Homo sapiens: one gene and its partners. The protein of the gene in region 4 interacts with the protein of the main gene of each other region in a biochemical or structural test. Each region holds a gene or a part of one and is shown on either strand. Other genes may lie near its edges. The genes, in order: USP24, PPM1D, ETS1 and RUNX2.

What was found.
Region 1: of the proteins of RUNX2 (region 4) and USP24, one has a biochemical effect on the other in vitro, tested with the Homo sapiens proteins (one study listed by BioGRID).
Region 2: of the proteins of RUNX2 (region 4) and PPM1D, one has a biochemical effect on the other in vitro, tested with the Homo sapiens proteins (one study listed by IntAct).
Region 3: the proteins of RUNX2 (region 4) and ETS1 form a complex in vitro, tested with the Homo sapiens proteins (one study listed by BioGRID).

What each region holds. Positions count from the first base shown.
Region 1 is NC_000001.11:55,065,859-55,072,364, forward strand, and holds the end of USP24 (ubiquitin carboxyl-terminal hydrolase 24), read right to left. Parts: coding exon 6,459-6,506; intron 6,067-6,458; coding exon 5,956-6,066; exon of another isoform or gene 5,701-5,955; intron 5,601-5,700; exon of another isoform or gene 5,540-5,600; intron 3,250-5,539; coding exon 3,187-3,249; 3' UTR 501-3,186; downstream 1-500. UniProt on the Homo sapiens protein: Ubiquitin-specific protease that regulates cell survival in various contexts through modulating the protein stability of some of its substrates including DDB2, MCL1 or TP53.
Region 2 is NC_000017.11:60,651,018-60,660,422, reverse strand, and holds part of PPM1D (protein phosphatase 1D), read right to left. Parts: intron 3,825-9,405; coding exon 3,582-3,824; intron 3,492-3,581; exon of another isoform or gene 3,381-3,491; intron 784-3,380; exon of another isoform or gene 495-783; intron 1-494. UniProt on the Homo sapiens protein: Involved in the negative regulation of p53 expression. Required for the relief of p53-dependent checkpoint mediated cell cycle arrest.
Region 3 is NC_000011.10:128,478,491-128,487,895, reverse strand, and holds part of ETS1 (protein C-ets-1), read left to right. Parts: intron 1-1,749; coding exon 1,750-1,827; intron 1,828-2,824; coding exon 2,825-3,073; intron 3,074-7,444; coding exon 7,445-7,705; intron 7,706-9,405. UniProt on the Homo sapiens protein: Transcription factor. Directly controls the expression of cytokine and chemokine genes in a wide variety of different cellular contexts. May control the differentiation, survival and proliferation of lymphoid cells.
Region 4 is NC_000006.12:45,548,330-45,553,987, forward strand, and holds the end of RUNX2 (runt-related transcription factor 2), read left to right. Parts: 3' UTR 1-2,753; downstream 2,754-5,658. UniProt on the Homo sapiens protein: Transcription factor involved in osteoblastic differentiation and skeletal morphogenesis. Essential for the maturation of osteoblasts and both intramembranous and endochondral ossification.

The DNA of each region.
Region 1 (6,506 bases), on a different chromosome or scaffold from region 4:
CACACCCTGACAGCTCTGTGATGTTGGAACAACTTGGTTCTTGCAGAGGGTTAGCAGGTGGTCACCAGGGATCGGGGAGGAAGGGGTGTGGCTTGCAGGAAGGCGAAAATCTGGACTAGCAAATAGGGAAGGGGACCCATGTGAGCAACGCTGGCCACTAGGAATGAGACTGAGACCTGTGGGATCTAGCAAGAAGCCCAGTGTGACCAGCGACACGATCTATGCTGGGGACCACTTGGGAGAGCCAAAAGCTTTGGTGGAGATGAATGGAGACCATCAACCTAAGTTCAGCATCCTCCTCTAAGCTTTGCAGATGAATCCTGAAATGGTCAGCCCCTCCAGAGAAAAGAACAGCAACAGGCTCAGAGGACCCACAGTCCCCTTTATTAGTGTAAAGTACTAAGAGGAATCAACAGCATTTAGCACCAGGCACAGGCTCGTGTTCCCCCGCCCACTACGGCTGTGTTCTGATATATGAAGAATGGCGGCAAGACTCCAACTCTGTTTTTGAAAAATTTATTTTATACTCTTAGAAGCTAAGAACTTTGCCACACATGAACCAAATTTAGAATTAAGGTTCTTCCCTAGTGTATCTACTTCCTTTTGAAATTTTATAAACAAGATTTTATACACAAGAGGTAGCAGAGGAAAATTCCAGTCTGCTTGTTCCAAGCTCAGAAGGTAACTGCACACACCTCGATGTTAGCAGGGAAGGTGGGGCAGGACAGGGTAAGTCTGATGATACGGCACTCTAGTTCCTAAAACTGACTGTAGTTGTCAGTGACCGTGTGAGGACTCCAGGAGAAGTCGTGGTGAGATGCCCGCTGGGATGCTTGTTTTCTTTCCCAGGATGCCTTCAACGGGCAGAATCGGCCATCTTAAGATCGGCCTCACTAAGGGAGCTTCTTGAGAACACACAGCATTATTGAGTTAATTGTGCAATTCCTGCTCTGTTTGCAGACCATTTTGAAAGGTTTATAAAAACATCTTCATCCAAAAAATTGGCAGTAAAAATGACAACTCTTCCAAGGTAAGCCTGTCATAACTGTCACTGTTGTACTACATTAAAAAAAGTCATCAGCAGGTTCATTGACTGTAGCTGTCAGCAATCAAGTGGTTACCAGCAAAGTGAAAACGATGGTCATTGCAGCAACAATATAAGCAACATGATCTGAAGCGTATAATATACACGGTGGACGATCCTGATGAAGCTTTACAGTGAGGACGGCAGGTGCTAGGGGTGCGGAAGGCGTTGTTTCCATAGGAAATAAGGGGACTAGAAGTGGCAATTTCACTCCTGATTTTGGGCTCCTGAGAGTGCAGTCGCCAGCGATGATATCCCAGTGTGGATCATCGCCAGCATTTCAAGGTCATGTCCCACACAATCTCTTGGTGAGGATGTGGGCGGAGAGAAGGTGAGAATAGGGTAGGGGAAACAGTAGGACAGGAAGTATTCACGTACTCAAAACCAATGGTAGAACATCACATTTCAAACTGCAAGACCATTGGAACCGTCTGAAGTTTGCCACTCGCCTCTGTCCGTTTCTCTAAGGGTACAGTTCTGCTCTTAAGTGCTGGCCCTTCCATCTTCTCAGTGTGTTTGACAAAGGCCACTGCCAACCTCCAGCAAGTCACAGAATAACAATGAAGTCTGACAGCACAGAAACCCTCACTGCCAGAGAATGAAAAGACTGGGCCATGGCGAGAGCACAGTAATGAGATGCCATCTGCCTGGCCACATGCCCACACAATGCCACAGCAGCCAGACAGGCACTTCAGGGCTGGCTGCGCCTCTGTGACTTGGCAAATCTGACAGTGAAAACCTGGCACTTCCTAAGGCTCCCTAGTTCTGTGCATGGTGAGATGAAAATAAGGCAGGACCTGTAACTAAAGGCAAAACAGGGCCGAAAATGTGAGCAATTCAAAATACAAAATGTACAAAATATATATGAAATATGTGGGTGTAAACCTCTCCCCCACACCATAAAAGGGAGCTGGTATAAATGAGTGAATGGTGCTATACTTTGGAAATACGACTAAATGGATGGTTATTCAATTGCTTTATATTTATTTCTGGGAAAATAAATCTTAAACCTTGACTGACTTTTCAGTGTTAATTAGTCATGTTGAGGAGAAACAAATTCTCAAATTCCTTCTCTGCATTACAATAACTATGAAACTCACAAGCAGTGTGTACCAACTCAAATAGTTAACTTCATATACAACCAATACCAAGGGTTTCAGTAATTATGTTTTAAGCAAAAGCAAACGATTGCAGATCACATGATTTAAGACTACAGTTTATTCAATATGTCTCCAAGCATTAAAAAGATAATTCTGTGAAGTTAAACTCAGTAAAATTATATCTTAAAGTGCTTTTATTTTGCTGTTTTTAAAATCTGTTTGGGGAACAACTCATAACTTCTTTAAGTAATTGATGTCAAATAATGCACCCTGTACTTCTGGAGAACACAGCATTTTCAAAATTGCTCTTTTCAATCTAATTATATCAGAAAAATATCTTCAAGAGCTTAGTATTTCCCAATTTTTGATCCTGATCCTGGTAACCTTTCATCAAGATCCAAGCTTATGCATAGGGTTCTCATCTAGACCCATCTGAAATTCTATACAAATAGGGAGACATATTAAATACAAAGGTCTGTGTAAATTGACTTAATTACTATTTTACAATGAAAAGGAATTTTATTACATCTTTACATCATTTTAAATTGGATATTCCTGTTTAATATTACTGCAAGATTAAAAATTTGCCCCCACATATCTAAAAGCAGCTTGCTTTTTCTTAAAATATAAAAACCAAAGGAATTTCTTTTGTAGCATCGTAGAGAAAGCAACAGCTTTATGCTCACTCTTGTATGTTCGTGTAACAAAAAAGTCTGCCACTGGCTCTATTTCCGAAAATCTCCACAGAAATGTGAATCCACATATAGACCACGCTCCCGGGACAGCTGATCCACATGCCGGAGTTCTCCCACTGCCAAACAGCTCCCAAACCTTCTAGTGGCTTAAAAATGCTTTCCTTGAGAAATACACGATCCGCCCAAGTCACAGCAGCTTTCCCAGTCCAATCTCCAGGCTCTTCCAAAGGGTTCGAGATTCTGATTCCAAGAAGGTGCTGAGCATCCAGTATTGTGTCTTGACTCCTCTCAGGCTGGGCATGTTCCTCTAGGGATCAACATCATCAAGGTCACTTCTCAACTCACCAATCATCATGGGAGATTCTGAACCCTGCAGAAAAGAAAAGGAAGTTAAAGTTCATACGGTTAGAGAAAAGGTTTTCTATGCTGACTTGTGTTCTGCAATTTAAACATGTCTTCATCTGGCAACTTAATGCAATGTTTATCAAAGGGTAATAAAATGTGATAACTATTACATCTAATATTTGACAATTCATGATTATGTAAAACATGTACATTTCTATGATCTCATTTAGTCAGTGAAACAACCCAGCGACTTGTCTAAAGTCACAATGCTACTCTGCACCCATGTGAGAACGCAGAGCAGTGATAAAGCTGGGAGAGGCATTGATGGCCATTGTGCCCGCTTCACGTTGGGCACTGTGTGAGCCTCCCTGCCCTGCACCTGCCAAATATGGGCTCTGGGTCACTCCTGGGTCTGAAGGCTACCTCTGTTACCATCTGTGTGGCCTTTGGCTTACACACTTGGCGAATCGTTCTGAATACTCACCGTGTGCCATGGGGCTGATCTAGTTGGAGCTGGGGTGGGGAGGAGCAAGGACAGTCTCTCTAAAGTGACAACCTAAGCTGAGTGAGAGTTGGGGGTGAGTAGGGGGGCCCTGAGGTGGAAGGAAGAGAGTACATTTGATAAATAAAATTCAGAAAATGGGCCAGGCACAGTCGCTTATGCCTGTAATCCCAGCTACTTGGGAGGCTGAGGCAAGGAGAATCGCTGGAACCTGGGAGAAGGAGGTAGCAGTGAGGTGAGATTGCACCACTGCACTCCAGCCTGGGTGACAGAGCAACACTCCATCTCAAAAAAAAAAAAAAAAAAAAAAAAAAAATCAGAAAATGGGGGTGGGGAGGTGCGCAGGTGCTAGATCAAGCAGGACTGTGTTGAGGATTCTGGCTTTTCTCCTCATACAAAGCCTTTGAAAGGTTTTAGTGCATGAACCAGAGAGAAGCAGGGGTGGAGGTGAGGGGATCCTTACAGATGTAGGCAGAGAGGGGCTGATGACAGGTGGAGGAGAGGGACGAGCACCCTTTCAAAGGGAGCTGTCCGGGATGACATGGGGGTGCTGTGTGTGAGATAAGGAACACTGACGGAGGGCCAGCTTTGGTGGGCGCAGGGAGGAGGGGCTGGGCACATCGAGTCTGAGGTCTTTAAGGTATGCCAAGTGGAGAACGTCAAGAACAAGAGAGCTGGATGTTCATGTTCAGAAATCCAAGGTGGGTGCGGAGAGAATATGGAGTGAGGGCAGGAGGATACAGGTTAGAGACTCCACAAACCTTTACTGGTGGTCCAGAAGAGGCAGTACTAGGAAGGAGACAGAGAAGGAACAGCCAGAAGGGTTTGAGGAAAACTACGAGAGAGAAGTGTCAGGAAAGCCCTGGAATAGTGTTTCAAACGGGAAGAGCGCCAGGAGCGCTAGATGCTGCCGAGCAGTCGGCTAAGATGAGGCCTGAAAGCTGCAGGCCACCTGTCACCCCAACTGCTGAGTTGGAGAGAAGAGGGAGTTAGCAGGGAAGAGGCTGAAGAGCGAGTGAGAGATAAGAAAATGGGGAAAGTTAAGTTTAGAGAATTAGTCGAAGTTTGGCTGCAAAGAAGAGAAAAGAAGGCAGGGGCAACAGGGAGAAGAGAGGCTTTGACAGGGCAGAAGAGAGGCTTTGACAGGGCAGAAGAGAAACCAGTGTGCTGAGACGTCGCTGGGAAGGGTCTGGCAGGGTGGAGCGTTCTGGATATTGAAGAGTTACATACACATTAGAACGCAAAGCTCTGCCAAGGTGGGCGGGGATGAGCGCTAGGGGCTTTGGGTGGACAGAGGCAAACTTCCCACTGTCACAGGAGAGGAGACAAGAACAGTGCAGATGCTTGGGAATTAGTGGCCGCAGGAGCTCTCCTGTGACAGCTTTTATTTTCTCTGCAAATGAAGTAGGTGATGAGGTAATGTGTGGAGTGACCTTGGGCTAAGTCACATCACTGTGCTGGGCTGCAGTTACCTTTCTGTAAAATCAGGGTGACAGCTGCCTCACATAGTGCTTATGAGGATCCGAAAGATAACACTTAAAAAAAAATGACACCTACTACATCAGTAACATTCATTTAATGGGGCCTATTCTGTACCAAGTACTGTGAAGGGACCACAGAGGAGACTGCTGTTAAGGAAAGTTACAGACTATTGGAAAGACGTAATGATTAACTGACACTTAGTTCAGTGTTTGCACACAGTGGGTGTTCAATACATATTTATTTTCTTTTTCTACTATAATGATTGGTATTAAAGCTGTTTTTTTTTCTTTTTTTAAAAATACATGTCAAAATTTTCTTGGACTCCCCTGGCAAGCAGGTATACTTCAAGAGCACGGGAGCTTTTCTTTCAAGAGTCCACATTTCCAGGAAGGCTGGTGAGAGCAAACGAGGGACTTTCAGTAACCTGGCAAGGCAGAATAAAGTGAACAAGCTGGAACGAATCCCCCTGTGCCCTGGCTTCATCGGGACTACCTGCAGGCTGATCAGGGTGGCCAGCCACAAACACCTCGAGGCCTTCCATTCACTTCACACTGCAGCACTACTCAGCCCTGTAAACACACGGTTAGTGCATATGCTGAGCTGAGATCACTAGAGGGCAGCGCTGGTAACTCTTTGGACTCACATTCCAGAGGAAGCATCTTGTTTTCCCTCAGCTGTGGAAATTCTTTTTGGAAAGCTTAAGAGCAAGGCTGCCCTTTGCACACAAGGACATGCTGACCGTTATACCTGCTGTAGATGCCTGTCTCCGTTCTCATTGGCAGGACTACTCTCCGACCCATTACTGCTTCCTGATTGCTCTTTTTCATTCAACAAAGCTGTGGCATACGCTAACGTGTCCTGCAGAAGATTCAAACACAAGACGACAAAGTTAGGGCCCATTCAGTGGCAGCAGCAACCGCCAGGGAAGACTACCTTTCATCTGACCTTCAGTGGGACCGGAGGCCTGAGAGTGAGGCCTTCATCACAGTCACCAGAACCCCCTCAACCCCTGTCCCTTTTTGTGACCAGACTGCCCAACCTGTATGACTTTCCTTCTAGACAAATAATCTGCACAAATTTGTGTAAGTGTACACCAATCTGTTTTCTTTTCATAGAAATCCAATTGTTTCTTCTGCTTGTTCTCATCTTCAACTCATACCTCTCTTCTCAGAGGTTGCAGTTTCTGAGAAACACACTGAAAATCCTCCATAAGTGATTTAGACCACGCAAAAACAAGAGACAACTCTCACCTGAGCTGAAATGGTTCGCTGAAAGGTTTTTCCAGTTGATGTTTCATT
Region 2 (9,405 bases), on a different chromosome or scaffold from region 4:
AAGAAAAGGACAAAGAATTTCTAGTTACTAATCTGGTACTGCCCCAAATACATCACTTCTCTGTTTTTTTGTTTTTGTTTCTTTTTGAGACAGAGTTTCATTCTTGTTGCCCAGGCTGGAGTGCAATGGCACAGTCTTGGCTCAATGCAACCTCCGCCTCCTGGGTTCAAGCGATTCTCCTGCCTCAGCCTCCCAAGTAGCTGGGATCACAGGCACCCACCACCACACCCAGCTAACTTTTGTATTCTTAGTAAAGACAGGATTTCACCATGTTGGCCAGGCTGGTCTCAAACTCCTGACCTCGGGTGATCAGCCTGCCTCGGCCTCCCAAAGTGCTGGGATTACAGGCACATGTCACCACACCCAGCTAATTTTTGTATTTTTAGTAGAAACAGGGTTTCACCATATTGGCCTCGAACTCCTGACCTTGTGATCCACCCGCCTCGGCCTCCCAAAGTGCTGGGATTACAGGCGTGAGCCACCACACCCAGCCTAAATGCACAGAATATTATTCTGACACCACAGGTGTGCTGGCTTCCCTTCCCCTACTTTCTTCTTGAACATTTCTGAAGGGAATTCTCTTTTTATTGGCATTCTGTGGGAATACATTGTATCTGTTAGCACAGGCAACTGTTTAGACTTCTTAGATGTACCCCAGGTTAATTTGTATTGCTAAGGCCTGCATGTTCGTAAAACAGTTATGTGATATTGAGGTTACCCCTAAAAATACATACTTTAAAAAAGTTCACTGCTTCAGAGATCAACTTTCTCCTCCCATCTACCCTGTAATCCAATATTAAACAATTAATTACAAACTGTGCCTAAAATGCAACTAAAACTAAGTTTTAATTTTCTGAAACTCTTTGCTCTCTTCCCCATTCCGTTCTTAAAGATCTTAGCTTGTAAAACATAGCTAAATTTAGTTTTGCCCTAAACAAAGGACAGAGAAAGAAATGTGTGTCATAGTAATCTATCTTACTTAAACAAAGGCTTTTCCACTATCTCCATCCCAAAACAAAGACTAATTTATGTGAGAATTCAAATGGAAGCTGACATGTTTACAGACAAATCTAGTCTCAAATGCCTTGTCTAAATGTGATTAAGTCTCTGACTGTTCAACATTAACCACATTATAATTAAATTTATCTCTATGTTACTAAACATGAGACAACTTTAATAATGATGTAAATTAAATATAGTCAGGAGTACTCACCTTTATGTCAATTAAGGTAAATAAAACAAACCAAAAACAATTTCTTGGGCAGAAATCTGTCTTTTGTTAGTTGTTAGATCAGAGCCAACAATACTAATTATTCTGAATTAACCTAAATATTTTCCCATATTTGGGCAGGGCCAATGGGTTAACAAATAACTATACCTGCATATGGCAAACATACGTCTTCTTATCTTTACTTTAGTAGTATTATTAGGTCATTATCAGAATTATTATTATTATTATTATTTGAGATGGAGTCTTGCCCTGTCAGCAGGCTGGAGTGCTGCAACGCGATCTCAGCTCACTGCAACCTCTACCTCCCGGGTTCAAGCGATTCCCGCCTCTGCCTCCCAAGTAGCTGGGATTACAGGCACGAGCCACCACATCCAGCTAATTTTTTGTATTTTAGTAGAGATGGGGTTTCACCATGTTGGCTAAGATAGTCTCGATCTCCTGACCTCATGATCCATGTGCCTCTGCCTCCCAAAGTGCTGGGATTACAGGCGTGAGCCACCACGCCCAGCCCAGAATTTAAGGAATTTTTTTTTTTTTTTTTTTGAGATGGGGTTTTGCTGTTGTTGCCCAGGCTGGAGCACAATGGCACGATCTTGGCTCACCGCAACCTCCGCCTCCTGGGTTCAAGCGATTCTCCTGCCTCAGCCTCCCAAGTACCTGGGATTACAGGCATGCATCACCACACCTGGCTAATTTTGTATTTTTAGTAGAGATGGGGTATCTCCATGTTGGTCAGTCTGGTCTCAAACTCCTGACCTCAGGTTATCTGCCCAACTCAGCCTCCCAAAGTGCTGGGATTACAGGCATGAGCCACTGTGCCCAGCTTAAGTAATTTTTTAAACGTATTTTATGTATGGGTTTACTAATGCCAGTCAGCAGACTGCAATAATTTTTATTTGAGGTCAATATTAAGAATGCCCTTTTGTTCCTCACACTATTCCCCACCCTAATGTCTCCTCCTTCTCTATACTGCCTAAAGGTCAGTTATAAGGGAACATGAAAGTAATAATTACATACAAATATTCAGAAATACGCAAATATACAAACATAAGCTCTTTCACAGCTTTGAAAAGAGAATAAAGAGGCTTTAAAGGGTTTCAACCTGCATTACCATTCATGGTTTTCAAAGAAAAGAAACCTTTTGTGAATGAAAATACTTCATTTCAGCCAGGCCTATAATACCAGCACTTTGGGAGGCCGATGCGGGTGGATCACCTGAGGTCAGGAGTTCAAGACCAGCTTGGACAACATGGTGAAACCCCATCTCTACTAAAAATACAAAAAATTAGCAGGGCGTAGTGGCGGGCACCTGTAATCCCAGCTACTTGGGAGGCTGAGGCAGGAGAATCACCTGAACCTGGGAGGTAGAGGTTGCAGTGAGCCAAGATAATGCCATTGCACTCTAGCCTGGGCAACAAGAGTGAAACTCTGTCTCAAAAACAAAAAAAAGAAAAAGAAATGAAAACATTCCATTGTATCTGGCCATATGTGGTTTTTGCCATATGTATGTAAAGTGAAAGAAAGCAAAGCAGTAATAATCCATTTCCAAGTATTGACTATAGGATTACGACGCCCAAAATTAAAGGCCTTTGACACTTTAAAAAACTTCCTGAATAGGTGACATTAGATTTCCCTACATTTCCCATTTTAATGGTCAGTCTACTGAAAACACATTCTCAGAAAGCCAGGTTAGCCATGCTATGTATTAAAGCAATTATCAATCAATACTGCTAATTTTTGGTGGGAAAAATTAGGATGAAAACACAACCAAGTATTTGAGTTCTTAGTAAATCAAAAAAGTATGATATCTACTTAAAATTTGCTTATTTCAAAGCATATCTTAAACTCAATCAATATTAACATGGATAAGAAATAGGAATAAAGTTTCTTATACGAGTTAACAGACAACCAGTTGTAACGTCTGCTATCCTCAGGTCCAGCTCAATTTTGATTCTCTATGACCTTGTTTAGACAGTTTAATCTCTCAGGCTTATTACTGATAAAATGAAATAATAACATTAGCTCTACTTCTGGGCTACGAGATTCAAATAAAATATATTTAAGTGCTTCACAAACTTCTAAATGCTTTAAAAATAATGTTCATAGCATTAGATGGCAAACAATAATATTCTTAAGGGCCCACAATCACCTTTTTATTAGTGCTGTACACATGGCTGGCATTCAGATTAGTATTGATGTAAAGATGGCTCTCTGATAATAAGTTACATCACTTTCTTGAATCGAGTTCAAATCCAAAATCCTGTAAGAATTTAAAAATTGTTTCCAGGTGACGCTAACCAAAGAACTGGTGTCTATTAAAACATAACTTAAAAACTATGGAACTATATACCTTGACTGGTGGTGTAGAACATGGGGAAGGAGTCATCACACAGGTTTCTTGACTATTATAGGAAGGGCTGTCAGTCAGGTTCAGGTATAACTCATCTTCATTGGTAAAGTTTCCCTGATTGTCCACTTCTGGAGAGATGCAGATTACTATGGCACTAGTGTTATCTGCTCGGAGCATACGCTGCCTCCAGCGGCCCAATGCTCGATTCACAAGCATTTTGGCACAAGATTGTCCATGCTCACCCTGTATTCAAAAGAACAAGGAGAAGGAAAGTAACTCAGATTTAGCTGCCACTACATCTGTATCTATATCAAATTAAATATTTGGTGTTCGCTGTGGCCCAAACAAAGCTCCCAATTTTTTTTTTTCTTTTCTCTTTTTTTTTTTTTGAGACAGAGTCTTCCTCTGTCACCCAGGCTGAAGTGCAGAGATGCAATCTCGGGTCACTGCAAGCTCTGCCTCCCGGGTTCATGCCATTCTTCTGCCTCAGCCTCCCGAGTAGCTAGGACTACAGGCGCCCGCCACCATGGCCGGCTAATTTTTTGTATTTTTAGTAGAGACGGGATTTCACCATGTTAGCCAGGATGGTCTTGATCTCCTGACCTCGATCCACACGCCTCTGCCTCCCAAAGTGCTGGGATTACAGGTGTGAGCCACTGCGCCCAGCCAAAGCTCCCAAATTTTCAAACATTATCCCCAGTCTCCTTAGCCATGTTAAAATAATACTTTTCTAAATTCAAAAAATACTAATAAAACAAGGTTTTATCCTGTCATTAAATTTCACTATTTTTATTTTTATCAAGAAACTCAGCCTTCACTGTAACTTTATTTAGAAAAAGTTGTCCAGACGCAATGGCTCATGCCTGTAATCCCAGCACTTTGGGAGGAGGAGGCGGGTGGATCATGAGGTCAGGAGATCGAGACCATCCTCGCTAACATGGTGAAACCCTATCTCTACTAAAAAAACAAAAAATTAGCCGGGCGCGACGGCACATGCCTGTAGTCCCAGCTACTCAGGAGGCTGAGGCAGGAGAATCGCTTGAACCCAGGAGGCGGAGGTTGCAGTGAGCCAAGATCAGGCCACCACATTCCAGCCTAGGCAACAGAGCAAGACTCCATTTAAAAAAAAAAAAGAAAGAAAGAAAAAGAAAAAAAGAAAAGAAAAAGTTATAAAGAAGTTACTTAAAAAGAAAGTAGCCAGGTGTGGTGGCTCACGCCTTTAATCCCAGTACTTTGGGAGGTGGAGGCAGGTGGACTGCAAGGTCAGGAATTCAAGGCCAGCCTGACCAACATGGCGAAACCCCATCTCTGCTAAAAATACAAAAATTAGTCAGGCATGGTGGTGTGTGCCTGTAATCCCAGCTACTTGGGAGGCTGAGACAGGAGAATTGCTTGAACCTGGGAGGCGGAGGTTACAGTGAGCCGAGATCACGCCACTGCACTCCCGCCTGGGCGACAGAGCGAGACTCCGTCTCAAAACAACAACAACAACAAGAAGTAAACATCAAGTTATTTAAGAAAACATAATTCACAAACAAGACAATCAGGCATGGTACAAAAAAAAATCATTGCAAAGGGTCAAATTCCTTCTAACATAAGAGATTCTGCAAATCGAAGAAAATGACTCAACATAAAAATTGTCAAAGAATATAAACAAAATCCAGAGAAAAGGAAATATAAACAGCTCATATATATATATAAACAGTCAATGTCACTCATATGAGGAAAAAGTAATACAATAACTGCTTATAGTATAAAGAACAAATATATACCAATTGAACGAGTAAAGAAAACAAAACCAAAAGGATCTCATTTTATGCAAATAAATGTGGCTTGGAATAAAACTTCCAGTGTCATATATGAATTTAAAATCTGCTAGGTTTCACAGAACAAAAGTGAAAATGATGTACTCCAGGAAATAAGCCTACATGTATTTTTTTCTTTCTTTTCTTTTCTTTCTTTTTTTTTTTTTTGAGATGGAGTTTTGCTCTTGTCGCCCAGGCTGGAGTGCAATGGCAAGACCTCGGCTCACTGCAACTTCCGCCTCCCAGGTTCAAGTGATTCTCCTGCCTCAGCCTCCCAAGTAGCTGGGATTACAGGCACCTGCCACCATGCCCAGCTAAATTTTTTTTTTGTATTTTTAGTAGAGACGGGGTTTCACCACGTTGGCCAGGCTGGTCTTGAACTCCTAATCTTAGGTGATCTGCCTGCCTCGGCCTCCCAAAGTTCTGGAATTACAGGTGTGAACCGCCGTGCCCGGCTGCCTGCATGTATTAAAAGTACCCATAGAAATAAATGACTAATGAAAATGAGTGGAAAATTTTGTTTGTTGTTTTTTGAGACAGGGTCTCACTCTGTCACCCAGGCTGGAATGCAGTGGTGTGACCTCGGCTTACTGCAGTCTCCACCTCCTGGGCTCAAGTGATCCTCCCACCTCAGCTGCTTGGGAGGCTGAGGTGGGAGAATCAGTTCAGCCCAGGAGGTGGAGGCTGCAGTGAGCCGGGATCGCACCACTGTGCTCCCAGCCTGGGTGACAGAGTGAGACTCTCTCTCTCAAAAAAAAAAAGCATATTATTTCAATAGACACTGAAAAAGCATTTCGTAAAATTGAACATCACTTTATGATAAAAACCCAACAAAAATAAGTATAGTAGAAATATACCTCAAAATGACAAACTCACAGCCAACATCAATACTGAATGGGGAAAAAAATTGAAGGTCTTTCCTCTAAGGACTGAAACAGACAAGGATGCCCCACTCTCACTTACTGTTATTCAATACAATACTGGAAGTCCCGGCCAGAGCAATTAGGCAAGAGAAAGAAATAAAGGGTAACCAAACTGGAAACGAATAAGTCAAATGAGCCTTGTTTGCAGGTAACATGATCTCATACCTACAAAAACCTAAAGACGCCACCAAAAAACTGTTAGAGCTGATAAATTCAGTGAAACTGCAGGATACAAGATGAACATACAAAAATCAGCAGCATTTACATATACCAACAGCAAACAATCTGAAAAAGAAATCAAGAAAGCAATCCTATTTCCAATAGGTACACAAATTATAAAATGCCTAGTAATCAATTTAACCAAAGATGTGAAAGATCTATAAAGGAAAACTAGAAAATACTGATGAAAGAAATTGAAGAGGACACAAAAAGATACAAAGGTAGTCCATGCTTATGGATTGGATGGATTAATATTGTTAACATGACAATACTACCCAAAGCAATTTAAAGATTCAATCCCTATCAAAATTGAAATGACATTCTTCACATAATTTTTTCTTTAAGCTCAGAATTCATATGAAACCACAAAATATCCTGAATAGCCAAAGCAATTCTAAGCCAAAAGAACAAAGCTGGAGGCATCACACTACCTGACTTCAAAACTATACTAGAGGGCTACAGTAACCAAAATAGCATGGTACTGCTACAAAAACAGACACATAGACCAATGGAACAGAACAGAAAACCTATGTATAAATCCACGCAATTTGCAGCCAGCTCATCTTCAACAAAGGTGCCAAGAGCAACAATAAATGGTAGGGGGAAAACTGGATAACTATATGCTGAAGAATGAAACTATACCCCTATCTCTCATCACACACAAAAATCAAATCAAAATGGATTAATGACTTAAATCTAAGATCTCAATTAGTAGAATTGGTAACCACAATTCTATTCCCTCTGTGAGATCTACTTTGATCTCACAAACTATGAAACTACTAGAAGAAAACAACATTGGAGAAACGCTCCAGGACACTGTTCTGGGCAAATAATTTTTGCATGAGACCTCAAAAGCACTGGCAACCAAAGCAAAAATAGACAAATGAAAATACAAGCTAAAATGCAAAGGAAACAATCAACAAAGTGAAGAGAGAACCCACAGAATGGGATAAAACATCTGCAAACTATCCATCTGACAAGGAATTAACAACATGTAAGGAGCTCAAATCAGTAGCAACAAAACAAAACAAGCCCCAAATAATCCAATTTTAAAATGGGCAAAAGATCTAAAATACACATTTCTCAAAAGACATACAAATGATTAACAGATATATGAAAAAATGCTCAACATCACTAATCATCAGAGAAATGCAAATCAAAACCACAATGAGGTATCATCTCACTCCAGTTAAAACCACTTGCATCAAAAAGATAGGCAACTACAGATGCTGGTGAGGATGTGCAGAAAGGGGAACCCTCAGTGTTAGTGGGAATGTAAATTAGAGCAGCCACTACGAAGAACAGTATGAAGGTTCCTCAAAAAAAAAAAAAAAAAAAAAAAAACAGAAGTAAACTACCATATGATCCAACAATTCCACTACTATACATATATCCAACAGAAAGAAAATCAATACACTGAAGGTATATCTGCACTCCCATGTTTATTGCAGCACTATTCACAACAGTCCAAATATGGAATCATCCTACGTCAATTCCATTTAATACATGAATGGATAAAGAAAATGTGGTGTATATACACATACACAATGAAATAGTATTCGGCCATAGAAAAGAATGAAATCTTGTCATTTGCAGCAACAGGGATGGAACTGGAGGACATTATGCTAAATGAAATAATCCAAGCACAGAAAGACATGATCTCACTCATATGTGGCAGCTAAAAGAGTAGATCTCACAAAGAGAGAGAGTAGAATTGTGGTTACAAGAAGCCAGGAAGGGTAGTAGGGAGAGAGAGATGAAGGGTGGAAAAAAAGAATATAAATGGATTTTTTACTATTGAATTGTACAATTTCAAATAGTACAAATAGTAAATGTCATATGTATAGTATACTTCGAATTTTTTAAAGTGTGTTTTAAAAATCTCTATTTTTAAGTGTAGTTATGTCCACTCAAACTTTTTTGTGCTTTTCTCTTGAACTAGAAACAATCAATCATGCCTTATGTGTCTTCTTAAAAGACTGCCCTTCTGGGTTTTGTGAATCTCCCTAAATAATTAATTTCTGCTCTATTATTTTCAACCTCCTACTTTGAGGGGTTTTACTATGATATTCTTTTTTGTAACTCTGACTGGATCACTTAGATTGTTTTCTTCATGTAGAATACCATGAGCCTTGTGTTATGGATGCATCATTTTATGTGCCACAAACGAAATAAAAAACACTGTCGGCTGGGCGTGGTGGCTTGGCATGGTGGTTCACACCTGTAATCCCAGCACTTTGGGAGGCCGAGGTGGGTGGATCATGAGGTCAGGAGATGGAGATCATCCTGGCCAATGTGGTGAAACCCCGTCTCTACTAAAATAAAAAAAATTAGCCAGGCATGGTGGCGCGCGCCTGTAGTCCCAGCTACTCGGGAGGCTGAGGCAGGGGAATCGCTTGAACCTGGGAGGCAGAGGTTGCAGTGAGCTGAGATCGCGCCACTGCACTCCAGCCTGGCAACACAGCGAGATTACATCTCAAAAAAAAAAAAAAACCAAAAACACTGTTAATTGAACTGTGATATACCATTTGTAAAAAGTATTCCAATTTCAGAGATATTAAAAGAAAATATGCACCTCAGAATTGATTAAAGGCAGCATTAATCTCTAATTCATGAATCTATCACATTCCCTACGGCATGTGGTTCCACTCTCCAAACACCAGCTGACTGAGCCCTTACCTCTCACTTTTTCAGTGTGCCTGTTTCCCTTCCCATCAATGCTCTATGAAAACAATTATATAAACCATTTTCCACTATCTTACCTGTATATTTTTCCCTCAGCTCACTAGAATTCTGCTGACTTGAGTCCCCCTAATATTGTGTGCTCTTAAACCACAGAGTCTCTCTAAGTGCATATATTGCCACAATTTACGCAAC
Region 3 (9,405 bases), on a different chromosome or scaffold from region 4:
AAATAACTGTGAGATAGTAAGGACAAGTCCTATTATTGTCCTTGTCTGTAAAATGAAGCTCAGGGTAGGCGATTTCTTCAGTATCACTCATCTCCTTTTCTTCATTTTATTTCAACTTTCAGTATATTTTTATTTTATTTTATTTTATTTATTTTTTGAGACAGAGTCTTGCTCTGTCACCCAGGCTGGAGTGCAGTCGCGCGATGTCGGCTCACTGCAACCTTCGCCTCCTAGGTTCAAGCGATTCTCCTGCCTCACCCTCCTGAGTAGCTGGGACTACAGGCGCATGCCACCATGCCTAGCTAATTTTTGTATTTTTAGTAGAGTCAGGGCTTCACCGTGTTGGCCAGGATGGTCTTGATCCCTTGACCTCGTGATCTGCCCACCTTGGCCTCCCAAAACACTGGGATTACAGGCGTGAGCCACCGCGCCTGCCCTCAATATATTTTTATTTAACTTAAAATTTAACATCCCATCCTGTGCTTTTTGTATAATAATGTGGATTCACAGGGGCCTTCTGGCCGCTAAGACTGGTTTGGCCTCACTTAGGGTAAAGGAATAATGTAAGAAAATTTAAGAGAATTAGGATATAAGTCAGTATGTTTGAGAGCAAAAGTCATATCTTCCCACCCAATATTCTGTTGAGAGAGGCAGAAAGAATTCTCCCTCTTCAGGTTCAGTTACTTGAAGAGATGAGCATGATGTTTGTGCTGAGGCTACAGCTTTTGTTCTGTAATTAAAGCAACACAGCAGCAAAAGAACATAGCTGTTTGGGGTGGGGTGGAAGGTGAAAGGTACGGGGATGTTTCAATCTGATAAACTGCTAAAGCAAAGTTTAATCATTTTATCTCAACTGGGAACTGTTTTTCTGTGCAGGCATAAACTTGTTTTCCCATCAGACTTTGCTCCTAACAAGCTATCAAATACCTGAGGAAAAACCCAAACCCATACTCTATGTCAGATTCTTATGGTGAAATATAATCAGACTACTCCATACAAGAATCGGAGCCATGGCATTTGTTCCAGGGTAATTAGAGGATCCCAGGCTTACTGCAGGGTCGTTCAGAGCTTTCTGTCCGCAGGTGCACTTCGTCTCCCTTCCTCTCCTTTTCCTAGGGGAGTTGGCATCTGGGCAGGAGCTTGACTGGGTTGCTCTTCTCTCCCTTGACACAAGCGCAGTCGCATTTCACCAAATGGAGTCACCTTACCAGTGTCCTGCTTCTTGTCTGGGCCTGAACTTGAAACCTGAGGGCAATGGGAAAAATACAAAACAAAAACCAGACATCTGTTAGAGGAAATGGAGAACGTAAAATCTATGGCCTAAAGACTGCAATATATTTTTGAGAAATTTTGAAATTGATTAGTTTGGGGGTTGGGGATTGATCCTGCTAACCTGGGATGTACTCAAGCCTTTGGCTATAGTGTGGTCGACATACACGCAGCACGAATGCATTGAGAATGAATGCTGAATGCCTTCTGAGCCCTTAGAGATTACTCATGGATTCTCTTTCCAAGATACTAAATCCCATTTTGCAGCTACTGAAATAATAACCTTAGTCATATTTTTTTGATCTCATCTTTAGACAAGGCCACAGTCAGGACAGACTCAGATACCAACCCAGTTAATGAGTATGCAGATTTCTTAGAAAAGGGGTTGAGATCATTGTGGTCTTTGCATCCAAGATCCTTTTAGGCCAAGCATGACTTGAATATTGACCTCTTTGTTCCTTCCCTATCTGTTCATTACAGAGGATGTGAAACCATATCAAGTTAATGGAGTCAACCCAGCCTATCCAGAATCCCGCTATACCTCGGATTACTTCATTAGTAAGTTCATTTCTACCCCTCTTCTCTCATGATAATAGCAAACTAGGAAAAGACCCCTATCTCAGTGAATCTCAGGCTCCTTCATGGTAATTCTATCAAAAATAATATCTTCTTAGATGTAGACTCTTCTTTGTTACTTTATTTTATTATTTTCCACAAAGCACAAAGTTTCAACCTATATATATGTTTCATTAACCTACCAAGTTCCTACACACTAGGATCCTTCTCTGATGTCTTCACCTGAAAGTCATGCAGAGAGACTGCAACTAGACCCCTAAACTTTTGTTCCTATTTGATACTGTGCACTACGATGGCCAAAAGAGGGTTGGGTTAGGGATTTGATCTTGGTCTTTGTTCTTTCCTTTTTACTAGTGGAGATAACAGCATTTCCTCCAAAATCCTTCTTTAAGAGTGTGCTATGCAGCTTCAAATTCTATTATAGGAAATACAGTCTTCTCCTTTTTCGTGTAAGATACCCAACCATACTGAAGAGATGGCCTGAGGGAAACAATGAATGTAGGCCTGTTGCACTAATGTAAGCTCTGAGATATAGGACCATCTTATCTGATGGCTGTGCTTTTACAGGGAATATGAAACAGGTTTTATTTTTTTCGTTTTATCTTTTTACGTTATTACAATTTTTATTCCAGTGACACAATGATATTAACTACTCTGTGTCAAGAGCTTATTGTGTGGGGAATGTTGGTGGGCATTTGACCTCTATCCTCATTTCATCTTCATCACAGTGCTCCGGGAAAAATCGCAATCACCCCCATTTTAGAGATGAGGATATGAAGTCAGGAAATCAATTACCTTGTCAAGGGCTAAAGCTGTTTAGTAGTGGACAAGGTTAAAAATGCAAGCTTTTCTGATTTAAAGTATTTTCCCTTATTCTCTAAGGAGCTTGTCCCACATCATAGGGCCCTGTAGATGGTGAAAACTGCTTATTTTAGGTACAAATCTCTCCTCTCTTTACTTGCAAACCCTTTGTTTCCAGGCTATGGTATTGAGCATGCCCAGTGTGTTCCACCATCGGAGTTCTCAGAGCCCAGCTTCATCACAGAGTCCTATCAGACGCTCCATCCCATCAGCTCGGAAGAGCTCCTCTCCCTCAAGTATGAGAATGACTACCCCTCGGTCATTCTCCGAGACCCTCTCCAGACAGACACCTTGCAGAATGACTACTTTGCTATCAAACAAGAAGTCGTCACCCCAGACAACATGTGCATGGGGAGGACCAGTCGTGGTAGGTCATATTTCTTCTCTAAAAGCTCTTGGGTTTACAAGAATTACCTGACTTTGTGAGTTTTTTTCAGGTTCCATTTTTTTTTTCTTATTTATTAGACCTGTAGATTCCTCAGTTTCAGCCTTCCCATCTTAGAGTGTCCAGATACTAAGAACTTTCCATCGTGGTGTTTTAGCCAAGTCCATTATTATGACAAAGGCCATGGGGTCCACAGTGAAATCAAAATCAGGCAATCTAAGAAATTAAATATCTTACTTGGGCAAAATGTTTTACTCAATAACTCTAGTTGAATTTGGTCATTTTGAAAGGTATGCTCTATTTTCCTTGAGGAGGACATAATCAAGTAAAAATGGTTCAAGTGGCCACCCTGGAAAACCCTTAAGCTTAGCATGTGTCCTGGTGCTCCTCCCAGAGGACTCCTGGGTCTGACTGTAGATCCTAGCTGGGTACCTGGAATGACCTCTGCTGGCCAGCCTGGGATCTTTAGCCTCCTGTGACTTTTTCGGTTTGGGAAGATACAAGATGGTTAACCAACGGTTTATTTGGAACCAGTCATCAGCAGTGTGGTGAAGTGTGTATTTAGCTAGAGGACCAGGGACGGAGGTGGCCAGGGGTTTCCAAAAGAAGGTAGTTTTGTTAACGTGACTATTATAATAGTGATAAAATATTCACTGTCAGGGAAGAAAGTGTTTAAAAATAGAGCTGGGTGACATAAAGCAAAAAAGGTAAAATGCACCCAATTTTTAGGAACAGGACATAAACACTCAGAGGTACAGCCTACCTAGTAAAGTGTCCAGATTGTTTTGTTTCTGAGAAAAATGCAATCTATTGTAAGAAAGGGTTTGTCTATTTAGCAAGAGCTAGATGATTTCTAAAAAGGTGAAAAACCTGACTTTTCTGGTGGGTAAATGGGAAAGAATTATAAATGGGAAGAGGAACAGGAGAAAGCTGATCAAGCGGGGCTTGGGTCAGATGTCAGGCTGGGGCTGGCCTATTAGTGATTTCTGCTCAATGACTGACCATATGCGGTGCCTATTGTGAGGCTCTTGGAGGAGAGCCCAATGGTACCTTTACTTTGAAGAATCATGGGTCATGCCCATTGTCGTCTTCTTCGAGTATTCAGACTCACACTTCCTCCTAGCAGGCCTAGGGATCACCAACAAGCCCTGCAGAGGGAAAGTCCCTGCAAAATCAGAACCCCTAATCTTCCTTCTTAAGGCCCCAGGGTGTTAGTGTTTCAGACCGAAGGGGATGGGTGGGACCAGTCGGCCTTCCCCTTTCTGGCTCTTTTTTATTTTTGGGTGCATGTCTATTTAAATACATACACACAAGTGTGTGTACATGTGTTTCTTTTTTATCAGGCGAGTCAAAGCATTAAAACGACTTTCTTCCTTGTGGGACTTTCTGTACATCTACACAGTGAGGCCAAGCCTGTGGGTTTGGGCTCAGCCATGTTGTAACTTTGGGTCGATCTCCTGTCACATTGTTTTGAAATTGCATCTGGCTTTGCATTTGTGTAATTGTCTCTTTCCCTCTCCTTTTCTTCATTCTTGGTTTTGGTCCCTACCACCCCTCCAACCCCAAACTAATGACTGTGGACCAAAAGTGACCCTTACAAGGAGACATGAGGTATTTCTTTCTGGCTCCACTCTTCTTCCCTCCCTCCAAGTTCAGGCCACAGAAACTTGAGGGGAAGACCATTTTGTGCAGGGCTGTTTTCTGCATGTTAGAAGTGCTGCAAACAGGGCCTATGCAAAGGGCCAATTGATTCTGAGATGCTGTGATTGGTCTAGACCGAAAGCATTACTGTTAGCTGATTGTTATTTATACTAACCATAGTACAGTATTCACGGGCTGCATTACAGCGTACAGAGTGCTTCTATGCCCCACTTATTTGGGCCCTAAGGACTGTCTTTGTACGAGTCTACTCAGTGGGTGGCTGGGTGCTGCCGCATCTTCTGTTTTGAGTGCTCTGAGGTCTGTTTGGTGGACTCAGATAGCTTTGGAAGGAGCTCGCCGAGGCCCTTCTCAGAAAGGCTGGCTAGTGGACAGTTTAGAGAACACAGGTTTCCCTACATGAGCGCAGCAGCATAACTGAGTATCTAATCCAGTTGGATTCTACCCATTTTTGGAGAAAATACCCGTAAATGAAGGTTCCCAGCACCAGGGTTGTGAAATCGAGCTAAAATGAAAGCTGCCTACCGCTGTAAACCACAACTCTCAACAGGGTTGCATTTGCCTCATGTTTGGGGGGTTGCCAGAGACTGGTTCTGGCTTGGTTTAGTCCCCTTGCTTAGTGGGACTCCTTGGAAACTCTACTATCTTGCTTGTGAAAATTCTGATGTCCTTTTTCTCCAAGTATAAAATTGGCTGATAGAAATGGAATCATTTCAGAGAGACTTTAGCATAAATACTATCGACTTGGTGCGGTGTTGATGAAAATATAAATTCTCCTTCTTAGGCTTTTGGTATGTTTGTCTCAAAGAGAAAATAAGTGACCATGAAGATCAGTAGCTGGTATGAACAAATACCTTTTTATGAGACGCCACAGAATTTCCTGTTCTGCTAAAACAAGGCTTTGACATTCTGGTTGTAGGCTGTTTTCTTAAATCATTTAGTGTGAATTTCTTGAAAGAAAATTAAATGATCTCTAAAAAGGTGAAAAAGATGACTTTTCTGGTGGGTAAATGGGAAAGAATTTTTAAGAATTATAAAGAAATATATATTCATTTTTAGTAAGAATGAAGAGGTGCCCTTTTGCTAGTGGACTGGGTGGGCAGGGCTGATAACTCCATGAAGCTCTTCAGTTTGCTTTCCAGAGATTACCCTCCTCTGAATGGATGAGTGGAGGAAGGAATGAGATGAAACGGATGACACCACCTTTCTGTTTAAAGCAGTTCCAGAGGGGGTCAGGATGTAGAGAAAACCCACAGCAGTGGATTTTACAAAAAGTACACACTCAACCGAATACATTTTATCCGGATCTTTAAACAATGTTGGGAGCAACATATTTTCCTATATATTTAATTTAGGTTTGGGCATCTGTTCATGTTTGATGTTTATTGTTTTAACCAATCTCCGCTGTCATGGAGGGAAAAATACACTGGAGGCACACTAATATGAAGTTGTATAAGTCAGCCTTATTCTGGGATTTGAAATTTATAGATCAACCACCCCTGAACAATTAAGAGTTGACTTACGGATATTTCTCCGTAAACATTTGTCACATCCCTTTGCCTTTTGGCCTGTGCTGAATTGAGGTGACCATCTAGTCTCCTATGATTTAACTTAGGTTACTTGAAAAGTATCTGAAAGTTGCATATAAAAACCATTCCTGCGAGCCTTTTTCGCTCTTAGATTCATTTGTTTTCCTCCAAAACTATTTTTTTTTTTTTTTTGCTAGCCTCCTTTTTAGTGGCATTTTTGCCAATGGAAATTTCTCCAGGAGCTATTGTGCAATCATAGCAGCTGTTTATAACCTGGTTTGGGAAATTAATGAACTTGCATGATCTTGTGGTCAGTTAAGAATGCCTTAAGCAACTCACACAGTAAAGGATTTCTGACACTGCTGTGGACCTTAACTCTTTAATAAACCTTTTAAATATTGCCTACACTTTTCCAATGAAGTTTAAATTTCAAGTACATAATTTTACTTGGAGAGGATAAAGAATATGGTTTTCTGTTTAGAAGAGTGATAGTGTGTGTGATTTTAAAAAATCTCTTGGGAAAAGCATCTTACACCATCTTACTCTATTTGAAAAGGCATAGGGTCAGTACATGTATTTCATATTAAAATAGTATTTGGGAAAAATGCTAAAAAATAGCACTTAGTTCCAAGGTCAAAACAGGCTAATCTGCTCTTAGTCTAATGGGATTCTTTTTTCTTATGACCAAAATGTTTTCCAAACTGGGCCTTTTGAAGTCATCTCATTGGCTTGAGCTGGAGTGGGGAATTCAGCCTGACATTGCTCTGATTTCTTCATTTATTCATTGGGCCTACGACATCAGCCAGAAATCATATCATAACATGTGTGATCCTCAGCTTCTAGATTTCTGGCTTTAGAACTCTTGAGGACCCAAACGCTACTCCGACAGATGTGAGCAACGTTTGACTCTGAATCTCTGTACTTGGAGTTCTCAAACCAGGCAGCAGAGTGGCCGTGGACCCTCGGATGGTGGCCTAGTGCAGCCCCTTTCCTCAGAGTAAACCCATGACCCCTGAAGCTTCTGTTCCCACTCGCCTCTCCCTTCTTCCGTCCTTCCTGCAGATCTGATTAGCAATCTGTCCTCCATAAGAGGGTTTTTACAGTTTTTTTTTTTTCCCACTCCCTCCTCCCCCTGTCCTCTTCCTACCTCCTCCTTTACCTCCAGGTAAACTCGGGGGCCAGGACTCTTTTGAAAGCATAGAGAGCTACGATAGTTGTGATCGCCTCACCCAGTCCTGGAGCAGCCAGTCATCTTTCAACAGCCTGCAGCGTGTTCCCTCCTATGACAGCTTCGACTCAGAGGACTATCCGGCTGCCCTGCCCAACCACAAGCCCAAGGGCACCTTCAAGGACTATGTGCGGGACCGTGCTGACCTCAATAAGGACAAGCCTGTCATTCCTGCTGCTGCCCTAGCTGGCTACACAGGTAGGCGCCCTCCCGCTGCTTAGGCCAACTCCATCTGCACGTTTCTGTGGGTGGGGTCCTGGAAGGCACTCTGCACCTCTGACCAGAGACGACGAGAGACTCCCTTTTGCAGGGCACGGGGGAGAAGTCTCTCTAAGAATTCTTTAGTCTCTCTCCAGCCACTCTGCTTGTGAATAGCCATTGATTTTTGGAAGCAAATAGTATCATTCTCTTCAAAGGGATCATTTCCAAGAATGGTAGGAAACTTACATTTTGGGTGTTTTTCCATGTCTGGGGGAAGGGAACTATAATGATCTGGTGTTCCTGGAAACTCTATCTAGTGGCCTGGCATCAGGGGATTTTTCCTGGTCTGCTCTTGGGAGGTCTTTCTAAATACAAAATCAGCAGCAGCATCTCTCAAAGGCACAACTGAATGGCCTCCGCACTGGACTCTTCTGCAGCACGGTTCTCCTTAGGCCAGCTGTTCAAATGTGGGAACAGTATCCTCAGTGGCACTACGCCCTGTCCAGATCCATCCTGGCCTATAGAGAATGCCCCTTCTCTTACTCGGCTTTATTATCAGTTTTCTTCCAGGAGCGAAAGCTATAGTTATGATAGTGATGGGTGAAGAAAGGCCATAGAGAAAGGAAGATGTAGGTTGAGAGCTTGAACTTTGATTGAGACTCTGGTAGTAGAGCAAAACAATGCTTTCTTCAAATGGGTTGTAGCATATCATGCTACTTAACCAGAAAAACATGTGGAGAGTATATCTGAGAAATAGCCAAGGAGCATTAATGTGTTAATCATCAGATCTCTCTGTAAGATTGTAGTGTTTTCTAAAAATTAGAAAGTGTGTTGTGAGTAGAGCTTATTTTAAAGTAGCTTTGATTACTCAGATGTGGTCTAGGCCTTTATTCTCTTATAATTCTCTCCACCCTGGATATGTTTTCATGTAGGGACCCTTTGTGTGGATGATGACAAACAGCAAGATCTGTGTTTCTATTGAGGTGTCTCTCTGATCCTTAGAGTATGCTGAATCCTTATTTTTGCATTCAGGGAAGCCTTAGGTCTTTTATGAAGAAAACCAGTGACCTTTGAGAACAACTCAAATGCTTGAAAACTTACTCCTCCTTCAAAGATCAGGAGTATCTCTCTTATATTGCATTCCATGTAGCTCCTAGTGCAGTTCATTGCATGAGTAGTGCTCAGGAATTATGTCTACATGTTGGAGTAGCAACAAGGTCAAGGCCAGGAATGGAACTTAAAGGTCCTTACTTTATTCTTTCTACAATACCCTGGTGGTCTTTGCTTGAACATGGCTAGCATGTAGGAACTTAGTACTTTTCAAGGGAGTCCTTTCCCATCTTTGAAAGGAGATTATTAGGAAGTATATCCATTTCCATTAAAAACGTCTGGGATGAGGAAAAGTGTATTAAGTCACTCTCAGGAAGTACAAGAGTGCCAGCTCATGCAGTTATACCTGTTAGGGGTTAAAGAACTAGACTGCAGTTGAATATAGTGATAAAGGAAGGGAGATGTGCTGCTTAATTGGGAAGAGAAAGGAAAGGCAGAGGTAGCTCTAAAATGACTTTGTGGCCTTGGGAGGTAGACATTATCTCTAATTGGCAGTGCTTGCTTCTGTTTTTGTGGTGCAGAGAAAACTATGCTCTAGGTCTGAGTTATGTTTGGATAGATTGATAGTTGCCTGCCCACCCTCTCTT
Region 4 (5,658 bases):
GAAATATTGCTAAGCAATTTCAGTTCATCCAGGCACAATGTGATTTTAAAAAATACTTCCATCTCCAAATATTTTAGATATAGATTGTTTTTGTGATGTATGAAGGAAATGTTATGTTTAGTTCTTTCAGATCTTTGAATGCCTCTAACACAGCTTTGCCTTCTAAAGCGGTAATTAGGGATTTAAAAAACAACCTTTAGCCCTTTATCAGCATGAAATGCTGGAGTGATGTGGTTTTCTAATTTCTTTGGGGTAATTATGACTCTTGTCATATTAAAAAGACAAGCACAAGTAAATCATTGAACTACAGAAAAATGTTCTGTGGTTTCATAGTTAAGCAAAACTCTAAATCGCCAGGCTTCATAGCAAAGACATAGTCAGCTAAAAGCCGCACATGTGGATAGAGGGTTCAATTATGAGACACCTAGTACAGGAGAGCAAAATTGCACCAGAGATTCTTAACCAACCAGCCTTACCAAACAACACAACAGGGGAACCCCAATCTGCCTTACCCAAGGCCCCACTGGCAGCTTTCCACAGAATTTGCATTTAGAGGAGCAGAATGACATCACTGTCCTTTGGGAGTAGGTCCTCTGAAAAGGCAGCAGGTTCCAGCAGGTAGCTGAGCTGAGAGGACATATGGCCCACGGGGACCTACAGACAGCCTTTGACATTTGTATTTCTTACAATGGAGGGCCAAGGAGGGCAAGGGGCTGTGGAGTTTGGTGTCTACTAGTGTGTATGAATTTGAGCTAGAGTCCTTCTGTGGCATGCACTTTGACCACTCCTGGCAGTCACATGGCAGATTTCCAAGTGCAAATCCTTAATCCAAACAAGGATCATCTAATGACACCACCAGGCCAATCCCTGCTCTCCTCCCCGAAAAGTCAGGGTCCCTTCATTGGAATCCTCCACCCACCCAAGCAGAATTTAGCAGAGATTTGCCTTCAAACCCTAACGGCCCCCTTGTTCTCTGGTCCTTCTCAAACCCACCTTTGTAGGCCACCCAGCATTGCAGGACAGCGTGTGGGGCAGCTGGACCTGTGCTTCCTGCCTGGGAGTCTCCCTTGGAATTCATCCTGACTCCTTCTAATAAAAATGGATGGGAAAGCAAAACACTTTGCCTTCTAAAGGCCGTATACCAAGTATGCTTAGATAAATAAGCCACTTTTCTATTACTTAAGTAAGAAGGAAGTAGTAATTGATACTATTTATTGTTTGTGTGTGGTAGCTTGAAGCACACCACTGTCCATTTATTTGTAAGTGTAAAATATGTGTGTTTGTTTCAGCAGCACTTAAAAAAGCCAGTGTCTGGTTACACATTTCAATTTTAATTAATTGACATAAAAATGCTACCGCCAGTGCCAGCTGCATCCTATTTAATTAAAAAGGTACTATATTTGTACATTATTTTTTAATGTTAAAAGGGCTTTTTTAAGTTTACAGTACACATACCGAGTGACTTTAGGGATGCTTTTGTGTTGAAATGTTACTATAGTGGCTGCAGGCAGCAACCCAGAAACACTTTAGAAGCTTTTTTTCCTTGGGAAAAATTCAAGCACTTCTTCCCTCCACCCTCACTCCAACCACCCCAATGGGGGTAATTCACATTTCTTAGAACAAATTCTGCCCTTTTTTGGTCTAGGGATTAAAATTTTGTTTTTCTTTCTTTCTTTTTTTTTTTTTTTCACTGAACCCTTAATTTGCACTGGGTCATGTGTTTGATTTGTGATTTCAAGACCAAAGCAAAGTCTTACTACTACTGTGGAACCATGTACTAGTTCCTGGGAATTAAAATAGCGTGGTTCTCTTTGTAGCACAAACATTGCTGGAATTTGCAGTCTTTTCAATGCAGCCACATTTTTATCCATTTCAGTTGTCTCACAAATTTTAACCCATATCAGAGTTCCAGAACAGGTACCACAGCTTTGGTTTTAGATTAGTGGAATAACATTCAGCCCAGAACTGAGAAACTCAACAGATTAACTATCGTTTGCTCTTTAGACGGTCTCACTGCCTCTCACTTGCCAGAGCCCTTTCAAAATGAGCAGAGAAGTCCACACCATTAGGGACCATCTGTGATAAATTCAGAAGGGAGGAGATGTGTGTACAGCTTTAAGGATTCCCTCAATTCCGAGGAAAGGGACTGGCCCAGAATCCAGGTTAATACATGGAAACACGAAGCATTAGCAAAAGTAATAATTATACCTATGGTATTTGAAAGAACAATAATAAAAGACACTTCTTCCAAACCTTGAATTTGTTGTTTTTAGAAAACGAATGCATTTAAAAATATTTTCTATGTGAGAATTTTTTAGATGTGTGTTTACTTCATGTTTACAAATAACTGTTTGCTTTTTAATGCAGTACTTTGAAATATATCAGCCAAAACCATAACTTACAATAATTTCTTAGGTATTCTGAATAAAATTCCATTTCTTTTGGATATGCTTTACCATTCTTAGGTTTCTGTGGAACAAAAATATTTGTAGCATTTTGTGTAAATACAAGCTTTCATTTTTATTTTTTCCAATTGCTATTGCCCAAGAATTGCTTTCCATGCACATATTGTAAAAATTCCGCTTTGTGCCACAGGTCATGATTGTGGATGAGTTTACTCTTAACTTCAAAGGGACTATTTGTATTGTATGTTGCAACTGTAAATTGAATTATTTGGCATTTTTCTCATGATTGTAATATTAATTTGAAGTTTGAATTTAATTTTCAATAAAATGGCTTTTTTGGTTTTGTTATGTGTGTACCTTGGGTCTTTTCTTGTTCACGGTTTCTCCCTAGTCTGATGTCTACTCCTGCTTACACCTGGGCACTGTTTGGTCTTAGGACTTGCCAGGGCTAGTTAAGAGAAGAGATGCTATATTACTGGGGAGAAGAAAAAAAATCTTGGTAAACGGTGTCTTCTTGTTTTGTCCTGTTCCTAGCGAGGGGTGGGCAAAGAATCTAGCAGTGAACTCACTTCCTTACTAGCTTGTGTCTGAAGGAAGGAGTGCTCACCTCATCCTTGAGTAAGGCCATTTATTCCAACTGGGGGACCTATCAGGCGTATAGATGCAGTCTCGATGGCTTCATGATTCTAATCTCTGAGAACATGAACAGGGCCCCGCAAGTGAACCTCTGGCTATCAACAGAAGATCTCAGGCAGCCCAGATATAGGCTAGTCTGTTTTCCTTTCCACATCTCTTTTGGGTTCTTAAAAATAAAGTCAACCAAAGCCCAAGGATGAGTAAAAACGGACCTTGGCCTGGAGGGCTATAGCCTCAGAAGAATTCTCCTAGTGAACATAACTATAGTTTGGAGATTTTTTTTTCCCGTGGCCATTGTTTATTTTTGGTAAGTCCCCCCCCTTGTGATAAGGTTGAAGACCTGGGGTAGAAAGGTTGCTTTCTCTGTGTCCTATGCTTTCTGAATGCTTGGGCTCACCACAATTCTAAAATAGGGACCCAGGAAAACATGGTGCAGAGAAGGTCAGCCAGTGGCCAAGCTGACCCACATCACAGGGAGAGTTAGAGACCTTGAAGATCTGCTCATTCTTAACCCTTTGGCACTATTTTCTAAGAAATCTTGGAAATAGTTAAATTCCAAGAATAGGAAATGTCCTGAAAGCACTTGGGTGAGCTTAAGCCAGGGAACTTGTCTGCAACTCTGAGGATGTAGATTTATTTATTTAAAAAAAAATCAAACATCTGTGTGACTTTAAAGGGCATTCACAAGGGAGGTGGTCACAGTGGCTTGCTTTCTGTCTCCAGTTTTCTCTATCAGGATGGTCTAGGGCAAATCCCTTTATTCCTCTGTGTCTCAGTTTCTTGGTTTATGAAAAGGCATTGGGCTAGATCTTGGCACTATTGACATTTCAGACTGGGTAATTCTTTTTGTGTGTGTGTGTCAGGGATGCTCTCCTGTGTATTGTAGGATGTTTAGCAGCATTCCTAGCCTCTACCCACTAAAAGTTAGTAGCACCTCCCTAGTTAGGACAATCAAAAATGTCTCCAGATGTTGCCAAATGGTCCCTGGGTGGCAAGATCACCACCGATTGAGAACCACTTAGCTAGAGGCTTTATTGACAGAACTGATATGAGAATACATTGCTTATTAAATCAGAGTAGCCAGGCAGAGGCTGAGGGACTTCCCAGTGATGGCTACACCTCAACCTTTTCCATCCCTTCACTTGATTTGGATGTATCATGAGGGCTGCTGTTGGCTTTTTCGTCTGCACCTCTTCACTCCTCTCTGCAACATGGGCTGTGCAGCCAGTGAACAGCCCAGCTGTGGGGCTTTGTTAAGCCTGGATTGGTTGGCCATATTTATCATGGCCTGTTTCTCACTGAAACGGCAGGCGGAAGAAGAAAGCAATTTCTGCAGTGTTTTTGACCCCTGGTGTCCCCTATCCCCCAAATATTTAATCATCAGGCATTTCTGCAAGAGTGGGTGTTTCCTGTTAACTCAATCCCAGCCGGGACTGGCCCAATAAACACCTCAGGTCTCTGTCATAGAGTTTATTTGGCTGGGAAATGGGTATTGCCATGTAAACAGGAAGGCCCCTGAAGTTATTATCTACAGACGCAGTGGAAGAGCCGCATGTTTATATTTATGGGACTTGAAAACAGTATGAAAGGCAAGGGAGGATGTCAGGGAAGCCCTCATTGGCAGTCAGTGAGAGCAGGTCCTACAGCTCTTTATTAGTTAATTTTTCATTCTCTCTGGAAATGGTTGGTAAACAATAATGACCTAGCCAAGAGCCACTGCAGAAATGGAGGTACTGGCTTGCCTGTACCTAGATTACCAGGTTAACAATAAGAAATGCTATCAGTTGGCCTCTCTGTCCTAACTATTCGAAAATTATTTTAGAGATCAGTCCTAGGAAGCAACAATTTGGAGGTATCTAAAAAGGATGCTTATGAAACAGTGTCACCATCTCTAAGTTCTTCTGGGGAAGTGGAGGACAACTCAACTGACTGCTCCAGTTGTAGTGAGTGTGGGCCAGCTCACCTGTGAAAATCCCAAGCAAATTCTCATGCATTCACTCCTTAGTCAGTTTCTGTGAGGCTGGAAAGGACATCTTCATGCAAGAGTTCATAACACCTGAGCTGTCCAGGTATTGGTACTGGGAATCAGGCTTACACCCTAGGCCTATGCACCCCAGGTATACTCCAAATTGCTCCCAACCCTTCTCGGCTCTTCCATTGTCTCTCTCCTCTGGCCCGGAAAAGGTGCTAAGAAAGGCCAGGTAGGAACCAGTATGTGGAGAGCTGATACTCTTGATTTAAACTCTGGGTTCTGAGCAAAGGCAAGGGAGTCTTTCCTTCCTCACCACCATTGCTGTGGACCCTGAGAAGCCTCTTTGTGTCTTCTTAGGGGCTTCTCAGCGGTAACTACTCAATCAGGAGGCCTTGGAAAGGAAATTTTAAAAAGTTATGAATCAAAACTTACCAAGGAAAAGGATCCAGTGAAGACGCAAAGGGTAATACACCAGGGATGTGTGTGTGTGGGCGTGTGTGTGGTGTATGTGTGTGTGTGTGTGGGGTGTATGTATGTGTGTGTATATGTGTCTGTGGTGCATGTGTGTATGTGTATTTATGTGTGTGGTGCATGTGTGTATGTGTGTGGTGTGTATGTGCACGTATATGTATATGTGTGTGTATA